Homo sapiens: one gene and its partners. The protein of the gene in region 1 purifies or fractionates together with the protein of each later gene. This does not show direct contact. Each region holds a gene or a part of one and is shown in the gene's direction. Other genes may lie near its edges. The genes, in order: STX19, PRMT3, STXBP5 and STXBP5L.

Region 1 (6,624 bases):
TTTGGTACAACTCCAACAGTCTTTGATAGCTTCTTTATGTTCTACTATGAAACAAGGTTCCAGACTTGCAATCATCCATTTCCCCAAGAAGCCTTGATCTTTTCAGTGGAAAATGGCATTTTAAAGACTAAAACCTAGGAGTTATAGATAAACATTTGCTATTGACTTACTACTGCTTCTAGGCCCTTTCAGTGCACAAAGCTAGGAAATAGTTTTATTCTAGAAAAAAAAAAAATCTAACCATGTATTCGTGTTGATTTTTTCATTTCAAATCAACTACCAAGTTTTACTTAGCTTCTTAAATCTTGTTTTTGTTTATTTCTTTGAGACAGGGTCTCACTCTGTTGCCCAGGCTTAAGTGCAGAGGTGTGACAACAGCTCACTACAGCCTCTACCTCCCAGGCTTGAGCCATCCTCCCACCTCAGCCTCTCAAGTAGCTGGGACTACAGGCGCATACCACTATGCCCAGCTAGTGTTCGAACGTTCTTTTTTTAAAAAATTATTTTAGCAGAGATGGGGTTTCACTATGTTCCCCAGGCTGGTCTCAAACTCCTAGGCTCAATCCTCCTGCCTCAGCCTCCTAAAGTACTGGATTACAGGCATGAGCCACTGTGCCCAGCCTTAGATCTTATTTGTATCTCTTTTTACTTATGCTGAAAACTACAGTTTCTAATGACATTATTTGTTTTATCCAACTATATATAGGAATTTTAACATAATAATATCAATATGATTACTAAATATTAAGACTACTAAGTGCAGGTTAACATATCTTTGTGGTTACGTATCTTTGTCTCTACGCTATATCCCACTAGAGATGCAGAGTCAATAATACTGTTTTAAAATTACTTAAAATAGTACTTCTCTGTGTGGTTTTGCCATCACCTAGATATATACCTAGGTTCATTTCTTTCTAGGTGCTTTTGCATTTTAGAGATCGTTTGTGTATTTGTTTTAAGATTTAATTTCTAAAATATTTATATCGGCTGGACGTGGTGGCTCACACCTGTAATCTCAGCACTCTGGGAGGCCAATGTGGGTGGATCATTTGTCAGGGGTTCAAGACCAGCTTTGCCAACATGGTGAAACCCTGTCTTTACTAAAAAAAAAAAAAAAAAAAAATGAGCCAGGCGTGGTGGCGTGCACCTGTAATACCAGCTACTCGGGAGGCTGAGGCATGAGAATCGCTTGAACCCAGGAGGCAGAGGTTGCAGTGAGCCGAGATCGCGCCACTGCACTCCAGGCTGGGTGACAGAGTGAGACCCTGTCTCAAAAAATAAAAATAAAAAAATATTTATATGGTTCTAAATTCAGAACTATAAAAACAAGGTACAATCAGAAAGGAACTATTTGCTATCTCTCTGCCTTTTCCTTCCCTTCCCTTATAGGTAACCATTTTCATTCGTGTTTAGTTCATCCTCCCATTATTTCTTTTTGAAAATATAAACAAGCGTATGGAGAAAATGGTATTTCAAGGACCATAATTTGGGCACTGTGAATATTCAATGCTATTGACTGGTTTATGTATTTGTGTATATATACAATATTTATATCTACCCTTCCTTTCTTCCTAAAACTTAGCATATTATATATATTCTTCTGCAGCATGCTTGTTTTAACTGAACAGTAAATTTTGAAGTACCCTGAAGCAGTATAATAAAATCTTCACTATTTTCTATAATTGCAAAATGCTCCCCTTTGAATGTTCCATCATTTATTCAGCCAGTTCTACGCTGAAGGACTTTTGTGTTTCCAGTGTTTTGTTTTTACAAAGAGTGCTATAAAAAGTAGGTGTGTAAAGGAGTCATTTCTTATTTTGAGTACAGATTCCAGGAAGTAGAACTGTTAAAACAAAGAATAAATATAAATGTGATTGGCCGGGCATGGTGGTTCACATCTGTAATCCCAGAACTTTGGGAGGCTGAGGCAGGTGGATCACCTGAGGTCAGGAGTTCGAGACCAGCCTGGCAAACATGGTGAAACCCCATTTCTACAAAAAAATTAGCTGGGCGTGGTGGCAGGCAACTGTAATCCCAGCTACTTATGGGGCTCAGGCAGCAGAATTGCTTGAACCCGGGAGACGGAGGTTGCAGTGAGCCAAGATCGTGCCACTGCACTCCAGCCTGGGCTACAAGAGCAAGACTCCTTCTCAAAAAAAAAAAAAAATAAAAAAAAAATAAATATATATATATATATATATATATATATATATATGATTTTGATAGATACAGCAATTTCCTTCTTCTTGCCCTCAAATAGTAACAAGTCAGGTAGAAAAAATGGGTCTGAAATTTGGTAGTACAAGAGAAATTTTCATTTTTAATTCTTCCTATAAACATTTCCCTCTGGTATAAATTAATTTTGAGTTGTTATATTGACAAAATAAATGATTTAACATATATTGCTGGATAACTTTAGTTCTATATAAAATTTATTTTAAAATAAAAACAGCAGGCATAATAAAAAGTAAAAAAAATTAAAAGTAACGTGGGATGAATGGTTTACAGACATGAGCTCTTTCCTGGATGTTCTCCTTCTGAAATTCTATGATTTTGTGAGCTAAGCTCTTTTGGGATTTCCTAAAATAGGACAGATTTCAACCATTTTAAAGTAAATGGAACAAAAAAAGCTTTTACACCAAGCTTCTTTTCATTCCTATTTAATTCCATATTTTTAGTAAGTTTTGATATCTATAGAAAAGAAAGTAACCTTTGTTTAAATACAAACCCATTTTCTTGGAATAATATATTACATATACAATGTAGGACTAAATTTGCAGATCCAGTGCCAAATACTCTACGTAGGCAGTTTAACGAGGACTTCCTGTTACCGACTAGCTCCAATGAAAATGATCTTCCTTTAATCTAAAGAATAGGCGTCTAACAGGCAGAACCAGATTCTCCAGGTGTGAAGTAAGCAATCTATTTTCACTTGCTATTAACAGCAAACGTACAACTTTATCTCTTATTTGACTTCATTATTTGGCTTTCAAATTAACAACATGAAAACTATACAGAAATTAGTCTGTGCCCTATAAGACAGAGATTTAGATAATTTGTTCAAAACATGAGATGATATTCAGATATTCTCTCAAAGGCAGGACTCCAACACCGCAGGTGGAAAACCAACAAAAGGAAGAAAACAGAAAGGTAAATAATGACTCTTTTCTGTACTTTTTAATATGAGGTATCCATAGACTGACATCTGGTTACACTGTTACATTTAAAAATCACTCAACAAATAATGAGGGTTACTTGTTTTGCTCAGATTTGGACCGGGGTACCAGTAGCTGATTTGTTCACATATATTACTGACATGCTGACTGGGATCTGGGTATAAAGCTCTTGAAAATAGACTACGATAATAAAAATCAACTTTAGAGGAAAGAAAAAATTTTTAAGTCTTTTAAAAAGTAAGCTCTCATTTAAAAAATACTAGAAAGTCAGATGTAAAAACAGATCTAAAATTATTTCTTTTATAGACAGACTATGAATGTGCTTACTTTAGAGAACATTTTTATATTTCACTCTGAAAAGCAGCTTATACCCAAATTTGACACATACGTATAACCTTAAAAATCTGAAATAATTTGCTATAATGGTCTTAATTGCTTCATTGTTGTTTACTAGAATCTTCTAAAATTGAAAAAATGAGAAAATAATCTTGTGAAAGGGCTACCAGAAAATATCGAAGTACTCACTAACCTTTATAATATTTCAACTAGTACATTAAAAATACTTGTTATACCATTTAACGTAAGTGTTAGCATTTAATTGATAGTTTGAAAAATTTAAATCAGCATCATTTAAATACAACATATGTAGATAGGTTAGATACTTTCAAAGTTATAATTGTTACTATGTTAGAATTTAATAAATATTCCATTTCAAATCAAAATAATAATGACTTTTATATGTATTTTAAAGGTGGACTTGAGAATTGGCCACGTAATACCTCGAACACATTATCTTCACAGCTATGCAGTTTTAAATGTAATATAAAAATCATTTTATGTATGTACAGCTTACTTGAATCAGATAAAAGTTCAAAAATTATACATCATATTTAAACAAAAATGATCTTAATGTTGTTATACAAGTTAATTCAATAAGTTATTTAGACTAAATAAAATGTAGAAAAAAGCATTGAAAGTTTACATTGCAAAAAAAGTCAGATACTTCAAAATTAGACAATATATGCAATTTGCAATTTTTTTTTAGTTTTTAGAAACTACTATTTGGCCCTCACTTTAGTAGCCAAAGAGGTTAATATATTACAATAAGATCCTCTGCTTTCACTTGCACTAGAAAAATGTGGCAAGTTGACTTCATATACAAAAGCAACAGAATATTCTGTTTTCTCTTGGGTAAAAACTGGTCATATTTCTTGAAATGTTTTATTTAATCATTACAGTAACTATGAAAAGAAATGGCCTACTTTAAAAAAATCTATAAATACACTAAGTATCTATCCCAGGGCATATTTCTAAAAGTACAAGGTAATTTTTACTCATGTTTCTGTTTCTAGGGATTTTCAGTGTCTGTAATAGGGCAGAGAACCTTTTATTTGAGTCGCACCAGTTTACTTTTCTATTTCCCAGAACAAGTTGTCCAAGTTGATTATCATACATACGAGTTAGTGTTCTTTCTTTTTTAAATATCATGTTTAAGCTCACAGATACAGTTCTTGCTAGTAAAATTCAAAACTGTATAGCAATGCTGCAAGTTAAACATAATAAAAGATGATTCATATTTGTATATAACTCTTCCAACATAATAAATTTAAGGTACATAACAGACTGCATAAAATAGTAATTTCATCAATTTCACCTAGTCTAAGCAATTAAATGATTTCACAACTATGAGCTTCATATTTTATGCTTATATGAATCCTGTCCTTGCATGTTTTAAATTCTAACATGCTTATTTGTCTCATTTTGCCTAACATTCTAATTCATGAAGATATAAGATCAATAAATTGGATAGTTATACATATAGTTATGAGTATGCAACTACTAGAAAATGTAATTTATATACAGCATATAAACATATTTGAGTACCTATCAAGTCAATTTCTACACAGATGAACAAGGATTTAGGGAAACATTCTCAATTATGTTAATTCTATAAAGATAAGCAACTGTGACTTTCAGTCAAAATGCACAGATACAGAAGTTACTCCCTCTTTCTCTAAACATACAGAATTTGATGTAATCGTAAGTTTAAAAAAGACAAATTTTAAAACAACATCACTAAATTTTAGAGTAAAAAAGCGAAGTTTTCTCCTGGCTCACACGGTGAAACCCCATCTCTACTAAAAATATAAAAAGTTAGTCGGGTGTGGTGGCGGGCGCCTGTAGTCCCAGCTACTCTGGAGGCTGAGGCAGGAGAATGGCGTGAACCCGGAAGGCGGAGCTTGCAGTGAGCCGAGATGGTGCCACTGCACTCCAGCCTGGGCGACAGAGAGAGACTCCGTCTCAAAAAAAAAAAAAAAAGAGAAGTTTTCAGGTGCCAGAAATGATGAGGAAACATACTTAAAGCCAAAGTGAAGAGTAGTAATTAAAGCTAATTACACTGGGCAAATACTTTACCTTAAAGCTGAGGTTTAGAGTTTGTTGCATTATAGGGAACTAAAACTGAGTTTCCTAGATGAAACAGTTAACTAGGAATAATACAACATAATCTGTATACAAAGACAGGAATAACTCTGTTGACTTGCCCAGGATTATAGCAGGAAGTGAGATATCCACTTAGGCTATAAAAATCACTAGAGAAAAATTAGGCCTACATAATACTACCTGGGCTACAAGGGGCAAACTCCATGGGGCGTTGGTAGTGACAATCAAAAAAATAGCCTCAATGTATCCATAATTGATCAGGACACTCAGAGCATTCTTGTATAACTCCCCAATGAAGCTAGGCTACTGACGAATTTCACTAAATACACTTGCCCACATTTAACAGAGTGGTCACCAGTCCGTGGCCACAGCAAACATAGGAATTTACTCCTAAGAAACTAGAAATAACCTAATAATGTAAAGGATCTTTCACATAAATATTCTCTAAATGTTCAAAAGAAATACAGGCATAGGATCCATAAACCAAGACAAACACAGTATAACCTTTATAGCTCACTTTAAACATCGTTTACATAATACGCATTGCCATGATGTATAACACTGAAAGGAAACCTGATTCTATTTCCATGTTTTGCCTTTAATATCAATAATGTATACAGATATTAAAAAAAGGATATTTTGTTTTTTGCTTGTAAATTCATTAAGATTAATAAAAAGGACATATTAATATATTTTAAAGGGCTCCTTAAAGTACCTTTTATTCAAATATAAAAGTGTGGTGCATGTTCAGGGAATGATATTACATGGATAAAAATCCAGGAAAAAAACAACCTTTATAGAGGTCAGACTCAAATATCCTGCTTTCCAAAATCAGTGGCAGTAAAATGCACCTTCTCAAAGGCACTTCACAGGAAAATTCACCTTCCCAGAGGCCTGTGTACACTGTGCTCCAATAGCAATTTGAAATAGTCTATTTCTTAAAAATTTTTAAACTATGATGCTTTAGAAAAAGGCTTTTGATTACTTTATTTCTAATTTTTTTAAA
Region 2 (6,081 bases), on another chromosome or scaffold:
ACATAACCTATCTCGGTAAACATTTGTGGAAAACTAATGCTCCACATGTGTTAGGAATATAGATAAGGTATACAGCTTCTCTGCTGTGTATTCCTGTCTTTAAGTAGCCTTCAGATTTGCATGTCACATAATAAAGAGGATTGATCCTCACAGTGTCTGTGATGCAAGTACGTTGGGAATACTACAAGATCACTTTTGAAATAAGGCACTTGGGGAGTATGCCAGCTGTAAAATTACATTTTATGCTTTATTTCTAAAAGCAGTTTGAGCTGTGCCAGTTCAAAGCCTCTGAAAGCAGAGTTGACACTTAGAGGAGAAAAGAATCTCAAGTAGAGAAATTGTATGACTTGAGAGAAACAGACTCTATCAAAGGGAACTCTCTTAAAAGCCTTTTGATAAAATCAGTGATATTATTTGACAAATAAATTCACTTTGACATTTAAAGGATAATTGGTTTTAGGTATAAAATGGGACTCAGAAGTACTAATTCCCTTTAAAAGTGCTGGATTCCCTTCCTTTCAGATACAAGTGTGTTTGTTTTTTCTTAATTGGAAGTAAAACTAGAAACCAGCAGAGTTAAAAAAAAAAAAAAAGTGTATATGTAACATGAAATCAGTATTTAGACTTCTTAGGGGACTATTCCATGAAGCTATTGCTTGATTTTTCAGGTTATTCACATCTGCTGAAGAAACATTTTCACACTGTAAGTCTGAGCATCAGTTTAATATTGACAGCATGGTTCATAAACATGGTGAGTAGTTTTTAGAATAAAGGCAATTTAATTTGTGAAATTTGGGCAGGCATGGCAGCTCACACCTGTAATCCCAGCACTTTGGGAGGCTGAGGTGGGTGGATCACTTTAGGTCGGGAGTTCAAGACCAGCCTGGCCAACATGCTGAAACCCCACCTGTACTAAAATACAAAAGTTATCTGGGTGTGGTGACGCACACCTGTAATAGCAGCTGCTCAGAAGACTGAGGCAGGTGAATTGCTTAAACCTGGGAGGCAGAGGTGGCAGTGAGCTGAGATGGTATCACTGCACTCCAGCCTGGGCAACAGAGTGAGACTCTTCTCAAAAAAAAAAAAAATCTGTGAAATATAAGTTCAGATTTTATAGTTTTTCAGACCCTTTTCTGTACGAGTTTAATATGGCGAATCACACAGCAACATCTTGTGGAAATGGAGTTTTTTTGACAAGCGGTCCTTGAGAAAAGATGAATAAGTCACTCTTCTAGACAAGATTCACTGTATTTAAGCTTATATTAGCTTTTCAACTAAAAACAAAAACAGACTTGGCATGTGATTACATTTTTACATTTTATGTGATTACATATTAGATTTAGGGAGAGCAAGTGTAGATGTAGGACTTGAAAAAGGACGCAGGTCATTTGAAAAAAGACAATCAGCTCAAAGCATGACATGAACTTCACAGCCTACGAGACTGAGTTTTATACAAAGTTCGGTAGAGACTGGAAAAAGAGTGATGAAGTTAAGATTAATATGCAAAATACTCAGGTGATGTTTCTATTGAAACTTTTATTTAAACACACTTGCCTTACAATTAAGGCCTTCCACTTTAAATGGATGTAGAAGAGCTATACTACAATAAAATTAACTAAATAGGCCAGGTGCTGTGGCTCACGCCTGTGATTCCAACACTTTGGGAGGCCAAGGCAGGTGGATCACAAGGTCAAGAGATTGAGACCATCCTGGCTAACCCAGTGAAAACCTTTGGGAGGCCAAGGCGGATGGATCACAAGGTCAGGAGATCGAGACCATCCTGGCTAACCCAGTGAAAACCCAACTCTACTAAAAATACAAAAAATTAGTCGGGCATGGTGGCATGTGCCTGTAGTCCCAGCTACTTGGGAGGCTGAGGCAGGAGAATTACTTGAACCCGGGAGGCGGAGGTTGCAGTGAGCTAAGATCATGCCACTGCACTACAGCCTGGGTGACAGACTGAGACGCCGTCTCAAAAAAAAAAAAATAATAGGTTTTTTGGTCCCTATATTTGTTGACAACTAAGAAGGGACATTACTGAAGAATAGCAAATACTAACAGGTGTTTCAGTGTCAGATAAATACGTGATATCACATGTTTATAAATCATAAATTCAACTGCAAGTACTTTCGTAAGGCATAAATGACAGCCTCATTTTTTAATGTTTTTTGTTTTTGTTTTTTTTTTGAGACGGAGTCTCGCTCTTGTTGCCCAGGCTGGAGTGCAATGGCACGATCTCGGCTCACTGCAACCTCCGCCTCCCGGGTTCAAGTGATTCTCCTGCCTCAGCCTCCCAAGTAGCTGGGATTATAGGCATGCGCCACCACACTGGCTAATTTTGTATTTTAGGAGAGACAGGGTTTCTCCATGTTGGTCAGGCTGGTCTGGAACTCCCGACCTCAGGTGATCCGCCTGCCTTGGCCTCCCAAAGTGCTGGGGTTACAGGCATGAGCCACTGTGCCCAGCCTTAATGTTTTTAATGTTGCATTTCTAAAGTATTAGAATCATACTTAAGATAGAATTTTGTTTTGTTTTTTTTTTACTTACCGATATAGGGGGTTTGTATACTATTAAAGTTTTCTCATAACAAGAGTTTTATGACAAATAATTGGTTGGTTGGATGTATTACTGCTTTCCTTTGTTTTAAATGCTGCTTCATTTCTGGAAAGATACGAGAACCAGATAACAAGCCTTATTGGGCTTGCATCATTTAACTTCATGTAAAAGCTAGTATACACCATGTCCTGGCAAAATTATAATTTGATACACACCATAAAAATTAGGGATTTAATACTTTCAGCTCTGATATCAGTTGCCAAATACTTGGTAAAATGTGGATCTTAATTTTCCAGATTTGTATTGTTCTGACAAAGGAGGAGTAGAATTTTAGAAATCAGTTTTCCATCTTTTTAGAAATACTAGAAAAGCTTTAATTTGTCATTTATGGCTGCTTCTCAAGATATTCAGAAGTATCATTGTATTACTACTTCTAATTCTTAATAAAATTCAAAATATAAGTAGTAATTTAGAGGTCAGAATTATTTTATTGTTTAATCAGAGAAGGCTTTATAGAATAGGTCAGTTAAACAAAACTCATTATGTTAACATAGGTGAATTATCTTTTTCCCCCTTTAGGACTTGAATTTTATGGATACATTAAGCTAATAAATTTTATTAGACTTAAGGTAAGTTGACAGCTTAATTTATAATTTCGTTTAGAAATCAAAGAAATGCTACAGTGACTGTCAGTGTACTGATTATTTAAAAGAATATGAGGAACTGCATTAAATTTGGTACTCATCATATTGGGGGAATCACGGACATTAGGAGGTAGCACAGCAGAAAGCACCATGTAAATGTCTACCATAACTAACAAATATTGTTTTCACTGCATCTAAGAGATGAATCGGTGTATGTGAAAAAGTAATTCAGTGTCAAATAAAGGGAAATACTGATGGACAGGATCTGTAAAATCAGAAATAATTTCTAATGTGATTTTAAGTATTTTGGTTGCTCTTTTTTATTCTGTTTTTTTTCAGATACTTTGTTTTTTTTTTTTTTTGTCCTGTTTAAATGAATGTTTAATGACATGACAACGCTTTCCCCAAATCCAAACAGTAAAAAAAACTCTGCGTTGAAACTGCTGGTTAAGCAGTCGTCCAGCAAGTTAATGAAATGACAGGCACGTAGACTTTTTGGAGACATACTGACTTTGTGTAATGCAAACATGATTTCCTTTTTGTTTAATTTCTGTAGTTTTTACTAAGGGGATTTTGTGATTATATGTAATGAAAAAAACATGAGATTAATTTTATATCCAGAATCCTACAGTTGAGTACATGAATTCCATATACAACCCAGTGCCTTGGGAGAAAGAAGAGTATTTGAAGCCAGTATTAGAAGATGACCTTTTACTTCAATTTGGTAAGATGAACATAAGTGTATCTCCTTTAATTAACATAAGGCCGTTTGTTAACGGCAAAATGGAGGTAGAGTGTTTTAGGAAAAGACATGCTTTTTAAAATTATCTAAATGCTTCATCAGGTAGTTAGTTTCAGTAGAAAAGTTAAGTTGCTTAAAAACTAATAGTCGGCCAGGTGTGGCGGCTCACGCCTGTAATCCCAACACTTTGGGAGGCTAAAAGGGCAGATCACGAGGTCAGGAGATCCAGACCATCATGGCTAACACAGTGAAACCCCATCTCTACTAAAAATACAAAAAATTAGCCGGGCATGGTGGCGGGCTTCTGTAGTCCCATCTACTCGGGAGGTTGAGGCAGGAGAATCACTTGAACCTGGTATACAGGTGACAGAGCAAGACTCTGTCTAAAAAAACTAAAAACTCTGTGATCAAAAGATTGTCTGGTTTTGCCTTTAATTGCTTCATGTATTTTGGAGCTCTTATGTGAGGTTTATACACATTTATAATTGTTATATTTTACTGAAAAATTGGTCAGCCTTTGCAGTAATTCTTCTCTGCCCGAAAGAAGTATCCAGGTGATTTGAACATCCTGAGACAGAAGGTAGATGTAGATGTTCATCTTTCTGAATATGGTTTAGGCCTTTGAATTAGACTGTTCTAGCAAATTGTAGTTAGGAATCTTAATATTTACTGAATCCTCTTTTTTTCAAATCTCTAAGTTTAATCTTTAATATATAATTATCTGCATATTCTTAACATTAAAAAGTTTTTATTATGACTAATTTTTATTGCAGCAGAAAGCAAAACAGAAACTGGCCAAACAGTTTGAAGAATTTTGAAATCAAAATACAAAATGAGGTTTGTAGTAGGAAGTAGAAAATACAGTATACCAGCCTTATATAGTTTGGAAATATTTTGTTGTGCTGATTAATTTTTGGTGAATTAGATAGTGAATGATGCAGTTTTTAAACCTCAGTGACTCAATATTCTGCCACAGTGATGAGAAGTTAGTGACACCCTGCACTGCTTTTATAACAAGAATTCAACTTAGGCTGTAGTCTCTTATAGTATAATGCATTCGTTTGGCTTAGCTATTTTGTCCTAATTCCAAGGACGTGTCTTCACAACTAAAAAATGAATAGGAATTTTTACGAAGTCACATTTCTTCCAGTGCTATCCTGAGGGGAAAATGTAATATTTGCACTGCTCACTGCCTTAAGTTGATCCGAAAGTTAGATCAGTAAATGGACACTGATTTTGTGAAATTCACTAACTACATATATTAACTTCTCTTTGTAGAGAAGTGAAATTAAAATTAAATACTAGGAATTAGGATATTTAATAATATCAGCAATAAGACTTTAGTGTATAGATTTCACTCCACCTTGCCCAGGATGAAAAATTATTGAATGTGTAGAATTCTTTACACGCTGTCCTTAGGAATGTTTTTTTTTTCCTCCAGTTTTATTCAGGTATAATTGATAAGTGAAAATTGTGTACATTTCAGGTATACAATGTGATGATTTGATATGCATATACATTGTGAAATGATTACCATAACCAAGCTGATTAACATCATCACCTCACATTCCATTTTTTTATTTTTGTGGTGAGAACAGTTAAGATCTATTGTCTGCAAATTTCAAGTATACAGTGCAGCATTTTTAACTATAGTCACTTTACAATAGACAGATGCCCAGAACTTACTCATCTTGTAGCTGAAAGTGTGTACCCTTTGACCAACATCTCCTCATTTCCACCACCATTCCACTCTCTGCTGCTGTGAGTTTTTTTTTAATTCCACACAAGAGTGAGATCACACAGTATTTGTCTGTTTGTGTCTGGCTTATTTTGCTTCACATAATGTCCTCCATGTTCATTCATATTTTCATATATGGCAGGATTTCCCTTAAGCAATATCTGAATTTAATACCTGCTACAATAAGGACATGGGCTAGGAGGTGGCTTTGTGTAATGGGAAGAACGTGGGCTGGGAAGGCAGGTTTGGGTTTAAATCTTAGTTCCTCCATAAACAGATATATAACTTTAGGATAGTCACTTAATTTCTCTGAAATTTATTTTTTCCTTGCCTAAAATAGGGATAAATACATCTTAACTGTGTTTTGAGAATAAAACAAGATGTAATGATGTACTGGAAAG
Region 3 (6,081 bases), on another chromosome or scaffold:
GAATAATTGGCAACACAAGTATTCAATTTTATTTTTTCCTTCAAAATTTCTTCAAACCTTATCTTCCTAAGTCAGAGTTAGGGGAAGTGGGAATGTGTTCCAAATCAACAGAAATTTCTAGAATAATTTTAATGCCTGACTCTAAATTTGTATCACTAACGTTCATGTTGTCTTTGCGAAATAAATCTGGTGGTTACATAGTAGCAAAAAAAGAAATAATGCCTTTAATGATTAATGTTTCAAAACACACATGGCAAGCATTCAATTGGAATCCAGTTAACTCAGGATATGTTGTGTTTCCTCATGTAGGAATGTTTAATTATATTGGTACTGTATCTTTTCTAGAGAAGATACATAGAAAATCATTTTAGGAAGCAAACTGTGTTGTTTATTATTTTCATGTATTTACACATTATTTTTCCAAAATGTTTTTATTACTCATTTTTTTAAGATTACCTAAAATCCATTGTGATAATAGATTTTTCTTCATGAATACAATGAGCACACTCTTGTTTGGTCAATGAGAACAAAGAATATATTATCTAAATGTTTAATAGACTAACGTAAATTGAGAAATGAAAATATGATGTAGTTAAATATGGACCATTTTCTATACATAGTATGAGTGATTAAATGTTACCTTATGTTTGATCATTTTATATTAAAGTATCTGACATATATTATCTTTTTTCCAGTAACTCTACAAGTATTATATAAGCTAAAGACATCTAAAGTATTTGAAAAGTCAAGAAATAAAGATGACAGGCCAAACACAGACATTGTAGATGAAGATCCATATGCCATTCAGATCATCTCCTGGTGTCCAGAAAGTAGAATGCTGTGCATCGCTGGAGTTTCAGCTCATGTCATTATTTATAGATTCAGCAAGCAGGAAGTAATCACAGAAGTCATTCCGGTAATAACGTCTTAGTTATTTTCATGGTCAAGTTATTTTCATCCACATTTTTAAATTTGTGGATGATTTGGAAGACTTTTTGCAGTCAGTTTTGTGCAGAACTTTTGAAAACACCTTAGTATTTATATTATTATCTCTCTTTTGTAAAAAACAGCATTTTTTGCATATATTTTCACTGATTATTTAAATCCTTAAGTATAGGATATGTTTCCTTTAAGGAAAGCTAATATGAATATGAGTATACTCTAATTTGATATTAACACGAGTACCATACATTCTAAAATCATAATGCACGTTTGTGTGTGTACTCCCTGAGTCAAGAACGTTTTCTTTCTTGCTAAATCCTTATTTTTTGAAATCTTGCTAAATTTTTACCTTTAAAAATCTTCTTGCCACTGAAGTTTATGTAAAGTGTGTGTGTATGTGTGTATAAATTGTGATAAAATGAGCAATAATTATTAGGAGTAAGTAAACTACCTTACTTTTACAACAGATGCTTGAAGTTCGATTATTATATGAGATAAATGATGTGGAAACTCCGGAGGGTGAGCAGCCACCACCTTTGCCAACACCCGTGGGAGGGTCCAACCCTCAGCCCATCCCTCCTCAGTCTCATCCATCTACCAGTAGCAGTTCATCTGATGGGCTTCGTGATAATGTACCTTGTTTAAAGTAAGTTATAAAAAACTACAGAGGAGTTTTGGATATTATCTTTTAATTTATATAAATTGTAAGCATTAGAGCTATGGTAACATTTTCTTTTGATATAGCAAAATGGCATAAGAATGGTTCTTCCTGTGTTTTGCTATGGTTAGTCCAACTCATTTTTCTATGACATCAAGAGGAATATGATTGCATTTCATGATATTATCCTTAAAATATTAAGGTTTAATCTCCAAACATTCTCGTAAAGCAGCAAGGATCTAACCTGTATATATCGCTCAGTCTTCTAAATCCATCAGTGTTTTTAGTCTTGATTTATATGTAGCTTGGATTTATGTTCCGACTGCTTTCTACAACTCTGAAAATTCTGTTTAAGTCTTTTAAGACTCAGTTGTTTTCTAATCATTTTCTTTTTCTGAATCTTCACTAGCACCACCGTATCTTTATTTAAAACGTTTTATTGTTGCATCCTAAATTTAAATATATCTTGCTTTTATACAGAGATAAATTGGATGAAGTTTTATTTTTTCTGTCCAATTTTTATTATTGAGTGGTTAAAATGTTTAAATGATAGAGGCAGAGAAATAAAACAATGAGTAAGAAGTTAAAATCATTGAAAAAGTACATGAAGACTATGTGATTAATAGTATATTTACAAAGAATTCAACTAGGATAATGACGGAAAGGTGGTTCTGGTAGCACTCAGAGAGATTCAGTAGATTGGTAGAGGGCAAAAGCCAGAGTGTACTAGGTTCAAGGTAGAGAGGGTAGTAAGTAAGAGAAATAATTTGCATTTATTAAAAGGACCAGGCTTTGCACTATTTTACTTTAATCTGCTTGAGTCTCTTCTACTGGTAGATAAATAATTTCTGGGAAGAATGTCTGTGTAATGAATAATGCACTCACACCAAAGATAAAACGGATAGATTTTTTTTATATTACAATCATTTTAAAAATACAGAGTTTTAGAAAATTATATGTTTACAAAAATTGAAGGTCATGTAGTCTAAGCTGGTGGCTCTCATTTGCATATGATTTTGTTCCCTAGGGGACATTTGGAGATGCTTTTAGTAGACACAACATGAGGAAGGGAGATGCTATTGACACTTAGTGGGTAGAGGCCAGGGATAATGTTAAATATTCTACAATGGACAAGGCAGTGCACACAACAAAGAATTACCAGCTCAAAACATCAGTAGTGCCAAGGATGAGAACCTCTGATCCAAACAGTATATACCCATTGAGGTTAAGCAGCTACATTTCTCAGAAAGGTATCAAGTTTTTCTTTCTCTCCTCTCCCTCTCTCATACCTGTACTAGAATATACACACTTATAACTGTAGTTCTAGCACATGTTTTAACTAGAATGAGACTTGGGAATACAGAATTCTACACTTTTCCCCTTTATTACTTCTTCAATACTACTTTATACTTAAAATTGTAAATGTTCCGTTAATGCCCTTGTTTCTGATTTCAATGTTTTTTTCCCAAGCCCTTTGTTACATTTAATTTTTATGACATACGTAGTACAATTTGTCTTTGGGGCATTTTTTGTAACGTATTTCTATATTTCTGAAATAGTGTTTTCAACTACTGAAGTGACATTTTAACAAAATAACAATTCCATATAAACATACATTATCTTCAACAGAATTAGAATGATTTATTTAATTTGTACTTCATAATTTCTGATGCCTCCAAGTTTTTTAGGCTTGTGGCCAGAGATCCAGCAGTATAAAACATTAAATTCTTTTCCTACCTGAAGAAAAAACACCATCAATGCACTGCTTTCTCATGACAAGATAGGTCAGAGGAAATAGTACTGACAGGAGAAGCAGTACTGTTTGGACCAGAGTGACAAGACCTCTTACCTTGGCTTTCTAGGTTAAAGTTAAAGGCCAGCCTGATAGGTGAGTCTTTGTCCTCTGTTCTTAGAAAGGCCTTTTTTTTCCAGTTTTTTTACTGACTGAAAGAGCAAGGATAATAGTTAAGGCAGCAACCAGCAGCAGCTGTTAAAACCAGCAAACCAAAATGCAGAGTACAACAGTACCCAAATCCATTTTAAAGGTAATACTGACTTCGTTCTGCAATTATGAGTTTTCTTTATTGTTCATGGACCTGAGATTATGGTATGGCCATCTTTCTTGTTTGGGAGGACTTTTCATACTTGTGATGGAATGTTATGGCACACTATTAATCTTTTGTAATTATTTAATGGAATGTCACTTAATATAAGAATTCCTTTTAAGCTGCTGGTTAGTCCCAGTAGACAGAGAGTCTCATTAGCCAATCCATTAATGATACATGTGAGGAGAGTCCTTTTTGTTGTTGGCATTAATTGTTATCTTTTGTGTATGGATACACTTTGCCAATCCTGGGATATACACGCAATAACATCTTAACAGTTTTTTCTGAATCCTAAAATAACTAATGACTGTGATTTGATGGTTTTTTTTCCTTTTGAATATCACTGTGGAACTCTAGGTATTTTTTATAGGCAATTTGTTTTAACTTACTGAATTTAATCAACTTAACGTGATTTTGTCACAGTTTTCTAGAGGGAGCTTCTTTTAAGTTGGTGTTTGTGTCTTCTTAACACCACCTCAGAACTTTGTGACCATCCTTAATTTCTGTCAAGATGTTCTAGACTTGCTTTGAATACTACTTGCCCTCACAGGGTAACAGACCAAAATATGATCTTTAGAAATGTTTGTAACATTATTTTTAATAAGCAGTATATTGTTATAGTAGACCACCTGGTGACAAGAGCTAAAAAAAATGGGGGGGTTGTTTTTTAAAAAACAGTCATTAAAACTCTTTTATTTTTCATTGAGTTTTTACATTACTATATAATGTAAATAAATAATTTTAAATCTCTTACCCAAACCACTCTTCTCCTATAATTTGATTAGCCTGGAATTATTCCATTTAATATTATTTATCTGTTAACAAAAGTAAGTCCAAAATTGTAGTATTAAAATTACCACTGATAGTAAAACACTAGATGAATAGTAAAATATAACATGACAGCTGTCCTTTAGACCTTTGAGCATATGACAAGTGATTCATAAGGCAATTACATTGTTTTGAGTTACTTTAATAATTTTTCTTCTGTTTTGGTTTTTTGTAGACTAACCTCATGTATAATAAAACTTTATAACAACTAACCTCATGTATAATAAAACTTTATAAATTCATTTTATCTTGAGACTTAATATTTTAAGGGACAGTTCTTTTTGGAAGTAGCGTTTGGTGTCAGATAGAGGTAAACTGCCCTGTCAGTATGTTTTATAAAATGGATGGAACTTTGAAGCAGTTCAGACTTTAAAGACACACATAGGAGATTCAGCCAGAGTCCTGTCACCTGTAATTGCTTACTAGAATCTACGAAGGAGCCCAGTAATTATACTTCTCTTTACCTATCTGGATTCTTTTTTTTTTTTTTTTTTTTTTTTTTTTAAAGAGACAGGGTCTCGCTCTGTTGCCCATGCTGGAGTACAGTGGTGTGATCACAGCTCACTGCAGCCACGACCTCCTGGGCTCAATCAGTCCTCCCAACTCAGCCTCCCATGTAGCTGGGACTACAAGCGCACACCACCTTGCCCAGCTAATTTTGTAGTTTTTTATAGAGATGGGTTTTCGGCATGTTACCCAGGGTGGTCTCAAACTTGGAGGCAATCTGCCTGCCTCGGCCTCCCAAAGTGCTGGGATTACAGATGTTAGCCACTGTGTCTGGCCCCCATCTGTATTCTTAACACATTAAGAAATAAAATAATTTCAGATGGTGACTAAAAATATCACCTTAATTATTGTTAAAGGTAAAGATGCCAACTAGCACAAGAGCCAGGTAGGTTTCCTGGTACTGACTGACCTGTATACAGAGATAGCCTTATCCTCCCAGTCGTGGCAGTATTAAGAACACTGCCTTTGCAGCAGCAGAAAAGAAAATGCATCCCCTGGGCAGACTTGCTCCCAAATGAACACAGGTTGAGGGGAAAATGAGAGGGCTACATTAATTATTTCCATATTTACCGGCTACATAGGGACTCTACCATTCCTGGGATAGAGTTAGAAAGAGGGTAGAGAGAAGCCCAGGAGTTCCACTGACACTCAAGAAAATACAACAGATGTGGAGAAGCAGTCCTGCTAATTTGAGTGTGTGTGTGTGTGTGTGTGTGTGTGTGTGTGTGTGTGTGTACACATGCTTGATTTTTGTTTTTGGCAGCCATGGGGGGTGGTTTGGCTGGTCACATAAATGCAAATTCTTACTAACTTTAATAGATAATGTTATATATTGTTACATCAAGTTATACATTTAAATTACAACATTACTTAAAATTTTAAGTATTGATTTTTAAAACTAGAAATATAAACAAATCATAGTAAAAAATATCATAAAGTAATGGCTCTATTGATACAGTTATGGTTATTTTGATCCTTTTTCTGGATTTTAGAGAAAACCCAAGAACAAGAATGCATGGGAAGATTGTAAACATAGGGATT
Region 4 (6,081 bases), about 27 Mb from region 1:
CAAGCCATAAGTCAGTAGTAGAATGTAGCTATGATTCAGTTTCATCACATGTACAATTCCCTGTGTAAATAAAATGGGAAAATGGAAAATAAAAATAAACTTGGAATATAAATACCAATTTCATAGGGTTCTTGTGATGATTATATAAAGACATTATAATAGTGTCCTTACTGTAGTAAGCACTCAATAATTGGTAACTGTTTTGTCACCACCAGAGGTTTTTCTGTAGTTTTAAAATAATTATGACAATAATTTTGGTGATATTCCCATAATGACATTTTTGTAAGTAATTGTTTTCAATCTTAAAAATGCTCATTTTTACATTATAAGGCAAATATGTGTTATAAAATCAGTTCTAATTAAATCATTTAATGCATTTTATGCATTCATAAAGTATTTAGTTTTAAAACTTTTTTAGTTTAATAAAGGTTTTTAGGTCACCTTTTTATTCCTATGTAAATTATTATATGTTTTTTATCAAGTAATTCTGATCTGCTAATTAGATTAAACAAAAGCCAAGGTAATGAAATAAACAACCAAAAATATGGAATTTTGTTTGGAAAATTTTTAGTGAATTAATGCAAAGTTAAAATGCAATGAAAGTTTTTTATACTAAAAGGCTTTAAACAAGTAATTTTTTCATACACACACAAACATACACACTACACACACATATACACGTTTGTGTGTGTATATGAAAAAAGTTTAATTTCTTTCATTGGAATAACCATAATCAACTTCTCCTTTTATTTTATCATATATCAAATTGTAATATATAAATTGTAATTTATACTATATCTTAAAGTATATTTATTATATAAAAACTTTATCTTCACTGAGGTATTTTTCTTTTAATTCTGAAGTTTAAAAATTTACATTTTTTGTGATTGCCATTGAATATTCCATATAATTAACTATTTGATTTAGTATGAGATACTTCTCAACTTTCCTGTAAATAGTATTGAACTTATTAATTTGAAAAAAACTGTGTGAATGATTCCTAAAAAGTTATCAGGTATTTTAATGTGATTATTTATTATGACTTAGATTAAATTAAAACGATGATTATTAGTGTGACTTAAATTAAATTTAAACTTGATTTTTTTAAGTCATTAGAGGTACGACTTCAGTATGATGTTGAAGATATTATTACCCCTGAACCAGAAACAAGTCCTCCGTTTCCAGATCTCTCAGCCCAGCTTCCTTCTTCAAGGAGTCTTTCTGGGAGCACTAACACTGTTGCTAGTGAAGGAGTAACAAAGGACAGTATTCCATGCCTCAAGTAAGAGTTTCTACCAAATTTTCAAACAATTTTAGATATTAATCATATGTCTTTGAAACTGTGACAAATGAAATTAATTTTCTCTTATTATCAAGCTATTGTCAGGTGATCTACAATTCTTCAGGGGTTACTCTGGTCTTTTCTTTGAACATCTGTGAAGAGGGCATAATATTTTCACCCTTCATTCACTTATTTATATATTTCCTTCCCAGAAGGACTCTAAAGAAAACATGGCTTTCACAGAATAGGAAGTTTGGCAGGGCAGAAACTTGGTGACATGCATGATATTTCCAATTGAAAAAGTATGTTTATGGGGTGTGATGGCTCACGCCTGTATTCCCAACACTTTGGGAGGCTGAGGTGGGAGGAATGCTTGAGACTAGGAGTTTGAGAGCAGCCTGGGCAACATAGCAAGACCTTGTATCTACAAAAAATTTAAAAATTAACTGGGTGTGATGGTACACACCTGTAGCTCCAGCTTCTAGGGAGGCTGAGGCGGGACAATCACTTTAGCTCAGGAGTTTAAAGTTGCAGTGAGCTATGGTCTTGCCACTGCACTCCAGCCTGGGTGACAGTAAGACCCTGTCTCCAAAAAAATAATAATGATAATTTTTTAAAGAAGTATGTTTATGTAATTTCTTTAGCTTTCTTGGAATCAAAAAGAAAACCAAGTTTACTATCTACTACAAGAGTTCTATATTAGAAAAAAGGATTTCTCTCATGATTGCTAGTATATTTCATAATCTTTCTTTTTTAAAACTATTTATTAATAAGCTAAACAAAGATTTGCATCATGTTCAATAAAACCTAAAGTTAACAAAGCCCATAGTAATATTTTATGATTTTAGTAATAGAGTATAAATTACTACTTACTGCTTCTATACCATCAAATCAAATATTTCTAGTGTTAGCTGGCTGGAGAATTAAACCTAAGCAGGGAATTTCTTTGAGCTGCATATCTACATTTGCCACTCAAAAAACTTTAGACAGCTAGTTTTCTCATTTCTTACAAATATGCTTATGGAAAATTTAGAGATAAGATTTTAGGAGCAAAATTCATGCAATTAGCAGATGCTATACTTTTGTAATCATTGATTGTCCTCTCAAAATTTTCTTTTGATGTACATAAAAAGAAGGAAATATGAGCAAATATTACTGGGAGGAAAATCTACAAAGAGAAAACATCATCATAAAATTTTAGCTAGTGGATATATTTTTTGAAAGTAGCATCAGTAGTATTTGATAATTGGTTTGTTGGGAAGTATGAGAGAAAGATATTAGTCAGCTTTAAAGGAAAATAGGAATTCAGATGCTAGATATGTTGAACTCTTACACTGGAGGGTAGGTTAATGGTCATTTGTTTTATTGTTATGCTTTATAACTGATATATATGTAACATATATTACATTAGAAAAATAATTACATAATAAAAATAACTTAAAATAATATTCTCAAAAGAAAAAATTGAAATGATAAAGGCCAGTTGAAGTTGTGGACCTAACTGGCTGAAAAGCCACATAAAGAAATAACTAAGTAATCATAAGGGACTCAGCATATTTTGAGAAAACTAGAAGGCACCATCCATCTGCATGCTGCCTGCAATGCCTGGTGTTGTATATTTCTGTAGCATGATTCTATGTAAATTCTCAAGATAAGTTTGACCATGTTTATTTAAGCTGTATATAATAGGATTGTTTTTGTTCTTAAAGTGTGAAGACACGGCCAGTGCGAATGCCTCCAGGATATCAAGCAGAACTTGTTATTCAATTGGTGTGGGTAGATGGTGAACCTCCACAACAGATTACTAGTCTTGCTGTAAGCTCAGCATATGGAATGTAAGTAATTAAACTTTTTTATGATATGTATTATTTAGCTAATATGTTTGATTTTTTAGATGTTCCTTGCTTAAGTCCTAAAAATGAAAAGAAGCCCTTACCTGGATTTTTATTAGATTAAACAATATATAAGAAAAATAATTTAAATTTACATTATGGTTTTTTGTTCTTTCTTGAAGTCAAACCTGTGATAGTGTTCCCAATTTTGATGTTAGTAGGAGATTGTTAGGATTTTATTACACTTAAACTGTGTTGTTTGTTTTTATATTGTCTTTTTTTCTCTTTATATTTCATTTTGGATACTTTCTTTTGACTTATCCTTTAGAGTTCACTAACTCCCTCTTCAACTGTGTCTGATCTGATGGTAGATCCACCTATGGAGTTCAATTTCAGCTATTTTATTTTTCAGTTCTAGACCTTACATTTGATTATTTTAAAACATCCTGTTCTCTTCCTAAATTATCACTCTATTCTTTATTTCTTTGAACATATTGAATGTATGACTTTAAAATGTGTTACTTTAAATATGTGTTTGATACTTCCATATTTGGTATCTAGTCTATTACATTTCTTAGTTTTGGGTCACATTATATTATGTTCATGTATGCCAGTTTGTATGATTTTTTTATTAGTTGTTCCTGGTTTTTTTTTTAATTGAGAAATGAACATTATAATTTGAGGTTCTAGATGATACTTTCCTCCAGAAAGTATCTACATTTCCTCTGGCAGTCTAGGTTAAAAAACTATTGAAGGGTCAGAACAACATAATTCAAGCAGACATCAGGTCTTTGAAAGTTGGATTTTATTCCCATTAAAGCCTAATTTAATTTCAGTTAATCCTTATTTCTAGGTTGTAGCCCTCCACAGAGGTTGTGTCAAACTATACTCCCACCACCAATGTTTAGAATGTCTACTTTCCTACAACCTTTCTAACTACAATGTATAATCAAACTTTCCATCCTGGTCAGTTTGTTAAGTAAAGAGTAGTATGTTATTATAATATCAGTAAAATTTTTGTATATCTTAAGTGAAATTGAACATCTTTTCCTGTTTTGTGACATTCTGTTTCTATTCTTTGTCCATTTGTCTGTAAAGTTGTTGGCCTTCATAGAGATTTGTGAAAACTGTTTGCATATTAGGGAAGTTAGCTTTCTCTATAGTGTAATTTGCAATGATCTTCCCTGCTTTTGTTTGCTTTATGACTTTGTTTAAGATGGTTCTTACTTTAAAGAATTTTTTGCAATTCTATTTTTTGTTATCTTTTATGGCTCTGAATTTGTGTCTTATTTAAAAAGTCCTTCCTCACTTCAAGATAATAATAAAAATTAATAAAAACAAAAAAATTATGTTCTCTCTAATATGCTTTTTTTCTTTTATATGTTTAAATCTTTGATCTGTCTGGAATTTTTTTAAGTATAAGATATGAAGTAAGTATTAAACTATATTTTTTCCTGATGGCTAAGAATTGTGCCAATACCGTTTCCTGAATACTTCATCTTTCTATGCTTATTTGGAATCAACTTTTATCAAATAATACATTACCTTATATATTTCACTTTTATTTCTGTACTTCCTAAGCTGAGTCTTATAAGCTCCAAGAGAATGCCTTGAAACCATCAGTAAGGAGTCCATGGAAAAAAGTCTTATCTTTGAGTACCTGGAATTTTCTTCAGGGGGATGTGGAGGATATATGTGAACATAGAGTATTGGGTGCTTGCTTCTTTACTAGAATATTATTTGATGGGAAAGCTGGCAACCACAGTTGATGGATGATGGGAGAGAAGGAATGGACTGTGGGATAGCCTACTGTTTCATTATTTGATACGGTAAGAATATATGATTATTCTCTAGCCCAAGTAATTACTGTGAAAGATAGTTGAGCTCAAGCCATCTTCTGAGTTCACTTCTCTAGAGTTTGACCTGTAAAGACAAGGGGACTTCAGAATTCAGAGACTATAAAGATGTGTCACCTGGTTCAGAAGCTGAAGTTTGTTAGAATAGATCAGATAAAAAAACACATTTCCCTTATAAGGGAACTGTGGAGGTGAAAGTTATTACAGAGCTTCTGAATAACTGACACTTGTATGAAAATGACAGCTTGGACATCTATCTCATAGAGAGCCTCCACTGCAAAAATCCTAGTTCATGTGGCTACTAGAGTAAATTCCACCAAGTTTTAAAGAAATAAATTTTACAAGTATTACTTTAAATGTTCCTGAGAATTATTAAAGATGAAATCATGTTCATCTCATTTTATGGCCAACATAACTCGATGCAAAAACTTGAAAAGGGTATTACAAAAAGAGAAAGTTGTAAGTCTATATCATTTATGAACATGGATTTAAAATCCCAACCAAAATATAGATAAATCTAGCAATTAAAAAAGATAACATATCATAACCAAGTTTGGTTTACACCAGGAATTCAAAGTTTTTAAACATTTTAAATTAATCAGTGTAGTTCATCACATTAGCAAATAAACTAGAAAAACCATATGATGGTCTGGTCAGGAATGCAAAAAACAAAAACATCTGATAAAATTAAATATCCATTTATGACTTCAAAAGAAACTAATAGCTAAAATGGAAGGAATTTTTCTTAATCTGATACATTTTAGCAAATATGCTCTATGGTGAAATGTTAGAGACTTTGTCTTTGAGGAAAAAATAAGAGAAGTTTCTTAGTCCATTTGGGCTGCTTAACAAAATATCTTACAAATTGGTAATTTGTAACAACTAAGATTTATTGCTCACAGTTCTGGAGGCTAGAAAGTCCAAAATCAAGGTCTCAGGAGATTCAGTGTCTGTCTCTCTGCTTTGCTCTCTGCTTCAAATATAGCACCTTCTAGCTTTGTTTGCGCTTGGCAGAAGGAGTGAACAAACTCCCTCAGAATTCTTTTATGAGAAAATGAATTCCATTCATAATGGCGGAATCCTCCCAAAGACCCAGTCACCTTCCCAAGGC

Evidence for each region.
Region 2: the proteins of STX19 (region 1) and PRMT3 purify together in Homo sapiens (affinity purification with mass spectrometry; 3 studies listed by BioGRID and IntAct, with this or other methods). This does not show direct contact.
Region 3: the proteins of STX19 (region 1) and STXBP5 purify together in Homo sapiens (affinity purification with mass spectrometry; 3 studies listed by BioGRID and IntAct, with this or other methods). This does not show direct contact.
Region 4: the proteins of STX19 (region 1) and STXBP5L purify together in Homo sapiens (affinity purification with mass spectrometry; 3 studies listed by BioGRID and IntAct, with this or other methods). This does not show direct contact.

The regions. Positions count from the first base shown.
Region 1 is NC_000003.12:94,024,893-94,031,516, reverse strand, and holds the start of STX19 (syntaxin-19), read left to right. Parts: upstream 1-2,919; 5' UTR 2,920-3,150; intron 3,151-6,624. UniProt on the Homo sapiens protein: Plays a role in endosomal trafficking of the epidermal growth factor receptor (EGFR).
Region 2 is NC_000011.10:20,389,076-20,395,156, forward strand, and holds part of PRMT3 (protein arginine N-methyltransferase 3), read left to right. Parts: intron 1-668; coding exon 669-751; intron 752-3,135; coding exon 3,136-3,185; intron 3,186-3,191; exon of another isoform or gene 3,192-3,682; intron 3,683-3,821; coding exon 3,822-3,924; intron 3,925-6,081. UniProt on the Homo sapiens protein: Protein-arginine N-methyltransferase that catalyzes both the monomethylation and asymmetric dimethylation of the guanidino nitrogens of arginine residues in target proteins, and therefore falls into the group of type I methyltransferases.
Region 3 is NC_000006.12:147,314,820-147,320,900, forward strand, and holds part of STXBP5 (syntaxin-binding protein 5), read left to right. Parts: intron 1-695; coding exon 696-916; intron 917-1,409; coding exon 1,410-1,588; intron 1,589-6,081. UniProt on the Homo sapiens protein: Plays a regulatory role in calcium-dependent exocytosis and neurotransmitter release. Inhibits membrane fusion between transport vesicles and the plasma membrane.
Region 4 is NC_000003.12:121,256,052-121,262,132, forward strand, and holds part of STXBP5L (syntaxin-binding protein 5-like), read left to right. Parts: intron 1-1,109; coding exon 1,110-1,282; intron 1,283-2,991; coding exon 2,992-3,117; intron 3,118-3,967; coding exon of another isoform or gene 3,968-3,974; exon of another isoform or gene 3,975-4,463; intron 4,464-6,081. UniProt on the Homo sapiens protein: Plays a role in vesicle trafficking and exocytosis inhibition.